2 separate regions of the Homo sapiens genome follow, and region 2 is linked to region 1. The links come from fine-mapping of genetic effects on gene expression. Tissue or cell type: whole blood. Region 1 holds a variant in brackets; the other region holds the start of a gene. All regions are shown on one strand. Distances are between the middles of the regions. Region 1 overlaps LOC105378198 (a long non-coding RNA gene). Region 2 holds the start of DND1 (DND microRNA-mediated repression inhibitor 1).

The links. PIP is the estimated chance that this variant, and not a neighbour inherited with it, causes the effect. A credible set is the group of variants that fine-mapping cannot tell apart.
Region 2: it holds the start of DND1, and the variant in region 1 is the best candidate, but not a certain one, in a credible set for the expression of DND1 in whole blood (INTERVAL, PIP 0.53).

The regions. Positions count from the first base shown.
Region 1 is chr5:140,730,541-140,734,930 of GRCh38, forward strand. LOC105378198 (a long non-coding RNA gene) reads left to right here. Exons shown (of 4, transcript XR_001742904.2): 2 at 1,557-1,620; 3 at 2,545-3,027. Among named protein-coding and RNA genes, the nearest start is that of ZMAT2, 32 kb to the left of the region's middle. The variant C/T (reference allele first, on the strand shown) is at 2,587.
Region 2 is chr5:140,671,186-140,675,575 of GRCh38, forward strand. DND1 (DND microRNA-mediated repression inhibitor 1) reads right to left here and starts at 2,391. Exons shown (of 4, transcript NM_194249.3): 1 at 2,334-2,391; 2 at 2,086-2,203; 3 at 1,260-1,721; 4 at 1-565. The coding sequence starts at 2,357. The coding sequence ends at 108. It overlaps WDR55 (WD repeat domain 55), which reads left to right. Exons shown (of 7, transcript NM_017706.5): 7 at 1-1,160. HARS1 (histidyl-tRNA synthetase 1) reads right to left here. Exons shown (of 13, transcript NM_002109.6): 11 at 3,832-3,948; 12 at 3,494-3,640; 13 at 2,720-3,143. The coding sequence ends at 3,072. RefSeq lists enhancers at 1,265-2,060, 2,061-2,856.

The DNA of each region.
Region 1 (4,390 bases):
CAGGCAAGAGTGCAGTGGGGGTATCTCAGCTCACTGCAAGCTCTGCCTCCTGGGCTCAAGTGATTCTCCTCTCTCAGCCTCCTGAGTAGCTAGGATTACAGGCATGTGCCACCATGCCCAGCTAATTTTTGTGTTTTTAGTAGAGACAGCGTTTCAATATTTTGGCCAGGCTTGTCTCGAACTCCTGACCTCAAGTGATCCGCCCACCTCGGCTTCCCAAAGTGCTGGAATTACAGGCGTGAGCCACTGTGCCCGCCCCCTCCATTTACCTGATTTTTATAATAATAATTTTCTCACTCTTCTTTATATCTTTACCACTTATGTATGAATGCCTGGGTGCTATAATTTAGTTTTCCTATTTTGATTACTTTCATAAATATAGTTATATTGAAGTGTTTGTTTTGTTTTGCTTCTTTTGTTCAATAATACATTTGTAAGATTTATCCATTTTGTTTATGTTGTGGGTTACTATTCCATTTAATGAATATAAGATGATTTACTTATTCATTTTAATATTGATGGATATTTGTAGCATTTCTAGTTTTGGTTCATTGTTCATAATAACTGAAACCCAGAAAAAACAGATATTCCCATCTTATACATATGTCCTGCGGCACTTCAGCATATATTTCTCCAGGGTACATACCTAGGAGTCAAACTGCTAAGTATTTAGTGGATTCATGTCTTCAGTTCTATAGTTTTGCCCAGTGGTTTTCCAAAGTATTTCTACCAGCTTACACATCTACCAGCAGTGTATCATGTCCCCAATATTTGGCATTGTACAACTTTAAAAATTTTTGTCAATTTTATGGCTGTAATTTGGTACCTCATTGTATTTTCATGAAAAAAGACAAAATCTTCATTTTAAGTATATAGAATAAATTCACATAATGTATTTTCTTTTTCTTTTTCTTTTTTTTTTTTTTTGGGACGGAGTCTTGCTCTGTCGCCCAGGCTGGAGTGCAGTGGCGCGATCTCGGCTCACTTCAAGCTCTGCCTCCCGGGTTCAAGCCATTCTCCTGCCTCAGCCTCCCCAGCAGCTGGGACTACAGGTGCACACCGCCACGCCCGGCTAATTTTTGTATTTTTAGTAGAGACGGGGTTTCACCGTGTTAGCCAGGATGGTCTTGATCTCCTGACCTCGTGATCTGCCCACCTCGGCCTCCCAAAGTGCTGGGATTAAAGGCGTGAGCCACTGTACCCGGCCCACGTAATGTATTTTCTTATTTAACCTTGAATGCTGAATAGTGTGCGTCTTTTTTTAAAAATACATCTTTAGATAAAATAGTATATTTTCAAAAAAGTACCCAAATCATAAATTTACAGCTCTATGAATTAATACAAAGTAAAGAAAACCATGAAATCACCACATGTCTATAAATAGGACTGTTCCATAAAGCCCTTCTAGAGCCTCCTGTAGTCACTTCTCTCACACTTGTCCTCAGAAGAAAGCCTTGAGGTGATTTCTAATATTACGATTGTTTTGTTTTTTCAACTTTGTATTAATGGAATAATACGTGACTGATTTTCTCATTCCTCCTTATGTTCCCATCCAGGTACTAACCAGGCCTGACCCTACTTAGCTTCCAAGATCAGAGGAGACCGGGCACGTTCAAGATGGTATGGCCAAAGACCCTCATTATGTTTCTAGATTCATCTATTTTGTTGTGCGTAGCAGTTGCTTATTTGCATTGCTGTATGGAAAGTAAGTCAAAAGACTTAATACTTTTGAAAGTAGAAATACTTTCGAAAGCAATTTGGGCTCCTCAATATAGTATAGGTTATGAGAGCTACAACAGTGCTTAGCAAGAGGTTTGGAACATAGAAAGTGTTTATTATACTTCTTTTTTTTTTTTTTTTTTTTTGAGACGGAGTTTTGCTGTTGTTGCCCAGGCTGGAGTGCAGTGGCAGGATCTCGGCTCACTGCAACCTCTGCCTCCTGGGTTCAAGTGATTCTCCTGCCTCAGCCTCCTGAGTGAGTAGCTGGGATTACAGGTGCGTGCCACCACGCTCAGCTAATTTTTTGTATTTTTAGTAGAGACGGGATTTCATCATGTTAGCCAGGCTGGTCTCGAACTCTGACCTCAGGTGATCCATCCACCTTGGCCTCCCAAAATGCAGGGATTACAGGCGTGAGCCACTGCGCTTGGTCTATACTTCTTATATTTGCAGGCAAATACCTTTTTACATTTGACAAATTGCCTTTTTATTTTTGCTTGAGTTTCCCTAAATAAAACTTCCTTGTTGTACTTATGCATGGTTCTATAATGGTGAATCAAGCCATTTACATTGGTGAATGAGAAATTGCATATTTCATGAATGCATGGAATAGTTTATGGTATTTATTCAAAATATTACACATACTTCTGCTTCCAGGAAGGTGGAGTAAATGTAATATTCCCCATTCATCCTGCTAAAACCCCAAAGCATTGTACATAAAACAAATGTAATACAATGAAAGGCAGACAAAAGGCAGACCAGCTAGGGATCTCAAGACTCAAGGTACAACACAGTCGTAAGTTTTTTTTTCCTTTTGTATTCCAGACTTGGAACTGAAGAAGCTGGCAATCTGGAAATGCCAATGGA[C/T]GCAGATTTTAAAAGCCCCAGCAAAAGTCTGCTTTCTCTATTCATAGGACCAGGATCAGGAAGAGGACAGCTTAGAAAGACATAAAATTCTTAGACAATAACTGTTCTACCCCAGCCAAACACCAAACACACACACACACACACACACACACACACTCCAACAACTATGGCCCCACCCACTTCAGCAAAGGCTGAGTAGGAGCCTAAACTTCCACCACTGAGCGGCTATAAGAAGTTACCCCAAGACCCCACCAACGTGGTGTTAAAGAAGGCCAAATAGGGGACAAAATTTTTATCCATGCTGACCAGTTATGAGGTTCCCTTTTTCCCTCTGTGAAATAAAAATAAAGCCCGTAGGTCCCCAGGCAAGATGAAATGGACTCCTTGTTGCAAAAGAGACCCCAGAAAACTTTAAAAGCTGGATTCTATGGCTTTGGCAAGGTAAGAGTTCGGTCACACCTCAAAACTCCCCTACCTCATTAACTGCTTCAAGACTTTCTTTCCTACAGTTAAACGCCTGGGACTACAGTCATGTGCCACCATCCTAGGCTAATTTTTTTTTAAAGGTTTTTGTAGAGATGAGGTCTCAGTATATTGCCCAGGCTGGTCTCAAACTCTTGGGCTTAAGCAATTCTCCATCTCGGCCTCCCAGAGTGCTGGAATTACAGGCGTGAGCCACTGCACCAAGTCAGAAAACTGAGTTTTAAGAAGATTAATATTTTTATGTTTATGTAGCTTTCTGTATTACTTTTAAAGTCTTTTGATTGTCACTTCGGTTAAATGAATATTATTTTACAATGACCCGTGATCCTGTTTTGATCAAATATTTTGGGCCTTTTAACATCTTTGACAAACATCCTCAAAATCAATCCTAAATTAAGTCTTTTTACTTAGAATTAACTTTAAGATTTTCTAATTGGGCCCCTAAAAAGCTTCAACAGATATATCTCTCATTTTATAGAGATATTTTAAATGATTAGGCTTATTTGGTAAATTATATAAAAACATTGTCAAATAATAAGCAATACTAGATCTTCTTTTAATTACACTATGATATGTTGTTGATATAAATGGTTCAAAATTTATATAAATTCAGAAAGATCTAATGTGTTATCAGTCATAATTTTGGTTGTTATCTTAAAATACTACATATAATGTAAATAACTAAATGTTCTTGTCAATTGAGAACTTTCATTAGATTTTAACCATAGCCATTCTAAGTTTTTGTCATCTACAGTTACTGTTTTTAATTCTTCTCTAAAAACATTTGCAATAAGCTATAATCCAAATTGCTTTCTATCGAAAAGACTTTAACATATTTGAATACCAATTTCTCACTTGGAATAACGAAGTTCTTCCCTCCGCGGAAGACTGGACCTCAACACCAGTATCTGACACCAGACTTAGACTAGGGTTCCACCTCATGGCTGAGAAGAAGATGACAGCTGAGGTGGACTGCCTGTCCAAGATGCTGGACCAGGGCTGTATTTTAACTCGCCCACTTTTGACTTAAGACAAATTACCATTGCCATTGCCTCAAGTACCTGCGTTATTGACTGATTACCCTGACGTTGGGAATATTATGTATTCTGGAGATCCTATGTTGTGCTACAATGCTTACCCTTGTATTCCATTTTTAGATACTTCTAAAATTTCTCATCCACCTCCAAGTCCAAAATCCCTTTCCCAGAGCCTATAATCCTCACTTTAGAAAACATAGTTACCATGCTCCTTGTTAATCAAATACTCCATTACCTTAAAGAATACCCCCAGACTCTAGATAGTGACCCTCAGCAATTTGTAT
Region 2 (4,390 bases), 59 kb before region 1:
CCCTCCCCACCTTTGGGGGTCAGAAAGTGGCCACCCAGGCCTGCTGGGATGGGGCCTGACACAGGCTCTGCATGCCCATTCAGGGTGCCTGTGGAGAAAGAATGGAGTCACTGTTTAACCATGGTACCTGCCTCAGCCCCAGCAGACCACAGGAGGTTGGCCCCAGACTCACTGAGTGCCTGCAGCAGCCGTACAGACACAGCATCCTTGGCCACCTCATGCCCATCCCGGCCATCTAGGGTCAGCACAACCCAGATGAGGCCGCTGAAGGGCACCGGATGCCCAGGAATCACCACCTGGTACCAGAAGCGGTGCCAGCCAGCAGGTCCTATGCCCAAACACTTGGTGAGGAACACAGGGCTGCCCAGCTTCATTCGTTGGCACAGCAACTGCAGGGTAGCCCGAGCCCCTTGGAACCCTAACTTGTCCCTTGCCAAAGCCAACTGGCTGCCCTCTGGCTGTGGGGACCGCAAGAAGGGACCCACAAGCTGCTGGCGAAGTCGCTGCTTCAGGTCTGGCTTGAGCCACTCCACAGCCACCTGCTCTCCACAGAGGTGTGACTGCCCTGTAGGAAAAATGCAAAGACAAGGGCAGGTCTAAACCCTGGGCCCAAGCCTCCAGGTGGTGAGCCCTTTGGAGCTACACAGTCCTGTTATTTGTAGCCTTCCCATTTCCTGGTAGTGTGACCATGGGTAAGAAAAGACAATGAAGCCTTCAGCCTCCATTATTTGCAAAGGGAGTATAACACACTGCTACCTTACAAGTTTCCTTGGAGAAGTACTGGTTAATTGCAGGCTTTGTCTGCCTCATAACCATCATAATGGCTAATCTTTACTGGGAAAACTTGCTGTAAGTCAGTCAGTGTGCTAAGTACCGTACACCCATTATGTTACTTAATTCTCATAACAGTCTGAGGAAACAGATTCTATAGTAGTAAAAAGCTCAGTTGGATTCCCTTGAGCAAATCAATTTCTCTAACAGTTTCCTCATAGCTTGAGGGTCCTGTGCCTATTTTGCGGTGTGGGGGTGGGGGAAGGTTGAGAATTAAGTCAGGAGGTAATGCTCGGGAAGTGTCACAAATTTAGGTAAGCGGTGGTGGTAGCACCATTGGAAGTTTTAAAAATCTGAGATCAAATAGTAAAAGGTTGCAAATTCTGGCATGTTTGACTCTAAGATCTTGTAACTTTAACAGCTATGCTCAGTATAAAGTGCCGGGCAGAACGCGTTTGGCCCCAACCAGCACCCCCGCCCCAGCCTACCTTCCACCAGGGCCTTTTTGGCCATGGCAGCGGCCCGGTGCGAGCTGAATTTGAGCAGAGCGATCTGCCCGGGCGCCGGTCCGGGGCTGGGCAGCAGCCGCGCCTCCTGCAAGCCGGGACCCAGCGGCTGCAGCGCGAGCAGCAGCGCGCTGCGGGTCAGATTCGGCGGCAGGCCGTCAACGCTCAGCTCACACTTCTCGGTGCTGCGGCACACGAGCAGCGGGCAGGACGGCCGCAGCGGATGGTTGTGCAGCGTGGCGATGGCGGCCTGCGCGCCGCGCCTCGAGCTGTAGCGGGCATAGGCGAAGCCGCGGTTCAGGCCGCTGAAGGTCATCATCAGGCGGAACTCGTAGAGGCGGCCCACGCGCTGGAACAGCGGGATAAGCTGGTGCTCGTACACGTCCTGAGGCAGCCGCCCGATGAACACCTCTGACCCAGCTGGCGGCGGGCTGCCCACCCAGCCTGTGGGAAGAGGGTATGCAAGGCCACCGTCAGGCGACGCTTTCGAATTCTGAGCCCACGGACCCAGCGCGCGGGGGTGGGAGGCGATGTGAACAAAGGTCTGTGAAATGGGTTTACACCCGTACCCTGGGTGGTTGGCATAATTAGGTGACTGCGCTAACAAGGGGGCTGGCACAGAGTAGGTACACCTTGAGATTGGCCCCCTCCCTCGACGGGGCGGGTGGACGTGGAGCCACAGTTCCTCCTTTGCTGGGGGGTATAAATCCGGGTAGTTCGCAGTTTCTGACAGTGAAGGCTCGGAGCAGCCCCTCCCCCAAAGGGGGCTGGTGTAGCCGGACAGGCGGAGGGGCTGGGACTACCGTACCTGGGGGTGGCCCGCCATACTTCCTCTGCCCGTTCACCTGCACCAGGCGGATGCCTGTCTCCCTGACCCACGCCTCCAGCGCCGCCTTGTTCTCTGGATTCACCCTCTCACACCACAGCTGAGAGGGAAAGGAAGGTTGGAATGGCGGATCGCCAAGCGCGCCCCCACCTCTCCTGTGGTACTGGGGTCCCTAAAGCCGACCCCCGCTCCGGCGGGGCTCGCCGGCCCCCAAGTCGCCAGCCGCTTACCTCACAATCCCGCTTGGACTGCATGGCTCTCCAGCTGGCCCCCTCGTACCCTCTTTATAACTTCCTCCCCACCGGCCTCTGGAAGCTTCCCTACCCCTCCACCCCGCAAGCTCTCATTGGCTCTGAGCGCGACCCCGCCTCCCAGGGGGGTGGAGGTATCCACTGCACGTGCGCCGCCCGGGCTTCGCTCAGACCTTCAGGTGAAAGCTGCAAAGTCGCGGGTGCGTATGTACGGGGGCTGCCTCCCGAGGAGGAGCTCCCAAGCCGCAGGGTGGACGCTGGAGACAAGAACCTCAGGGTCACAAGTTTACTGTTTTTCTCCCTTTTCCATCCCTACATTGGTCTGCTGGGGAAGGCGGGGCTAGGCATCACTGACACACGCAGACTCCGTGGTTGAGGCATTTTATTGGACCTTTGGCAATTGGTGGTGGGGAGGCATCTGCTCCAACTGGTGCGGGGCCCTGCAGATGGGACCATCTCAGGCTGGGTCCTTGTAGCCCAGGAGCACAGACTGGACTAAGCCTCCTGGGCCTTGTATGAAAAAGGTGTTGTACCTGGCCGTTTTTGCCAGTAATAATCAATAAAATAACCATAATAAAAATCAAAGGCTCTGTTCTGACCACTCTTCAGGTCTTCCGCTGAAACGGAAAAGTGCAAAGCAATTGAAGTACATATGCAGTTTGTCTTAACCTCAAATAGTGCCAGTCCCACTTCCTTTCCTCTGATAGTTTGTTCAGTTCAGCAGATGCAGAGGGGCTGGCCTGTTCTCCTTTTGATTTCCTCCACAAGGTCTTCTCTTCGGACATCCACCTGGCCAGGATGGGAGAAGAAGGTGGTATAAGCATCTTCCATTCCACTGCTCCCCGAGTGCCTAGTTTCCTCTAGCCCTCTAGGCATCAGGCTTGTCTCAGCTGGGAGCAGGAACCTAATTAAACACCTCAGGCTAGAGTGTGCCTCTTGGGGGAGCCAACAAACCATAAGGTATATGCAGGGATGGAGATCTCACCCTACTAAGACCACAGTAACAGGTTAAGCCCTCAAGGCTTTTATGAGTTGTACTAATATCAATGCCAGGCTTTTTCTCAGGTCTTGAATGGGCATGGGCCTGCCAAAATGGCATACATTCTCTGTCCCTTAGCCTTCCTGCCCACCTCCCTCACCTCTTCCCTGCTCGTCACTGAACGGAGCTTGATGACCCCATCCTTGAGTTCCTGCTCGCCGATGATAGCCACCAGTGGGATGCCTGCCTCCTCACAGTACTGTAACTGGTTCAGTAGCTTTGGGTTCTTCTTGTACAGCAGCTCAGCCTGCAGGGGACAAGAGCAGAAGATGAAGGCTGGCTTCTGCTGTCCTCAGGGACAGAGGGTGTCCAAGCTGGCACCCTGTTCTTAGCTCTACTTTTGAGAAGTAATGGCAGGATCCATTATGGGTGAGCTTTTATTCAGTTTGTGTCCAGCACACCTAAGTTTGCTGCCACCCTGGGGCTTGCCTCCCATACCTTGATCCCAGCATCCCACAGTTCTGAGACAAGCTTTAGTCTTTCCTCTAGCAGCTTCTTCTGTGCAGATGCCACAAGCACCTGTGTCTCCGTGGTCCGTATCTTCTCCTCCAAAGCCTGGGGAAGGGGCAGATAAAAGAGAGCTGGGCTAACACCTTCAAGGAGCAAACAAAGCAGGCTCTAGTCGGGATTTTGAGACCAGGCCCAACTCAGCTCTACCAGGGCAGGGGCCCTGTCTTCTCATCTAGCACCTTGGGCATAAAGGTAGCTTTTAGTAGATATGAGGACTGAACTGACTGACTTGTACATAGGACGTATCAGAATAAATAACTTAGGGCAAGAGTAAAGGTAGCTTTTTTACAGTAACTTCAAGCTTATCTCCATGTAGTACCTTTTTTTTTTTTTTGAGACAGGGTCTCTGTCATCCAGGCTGAAGTGCCGTGGTGTGATCACTGCAGCTTCGACCTCCCAAGCTCAAGTGATCCTCCCACCTCAGCCTCCTGACTACAGGCACACACCACCATACTCAGCTAATTTAAAAAAAAAAAAAAATTTTTTT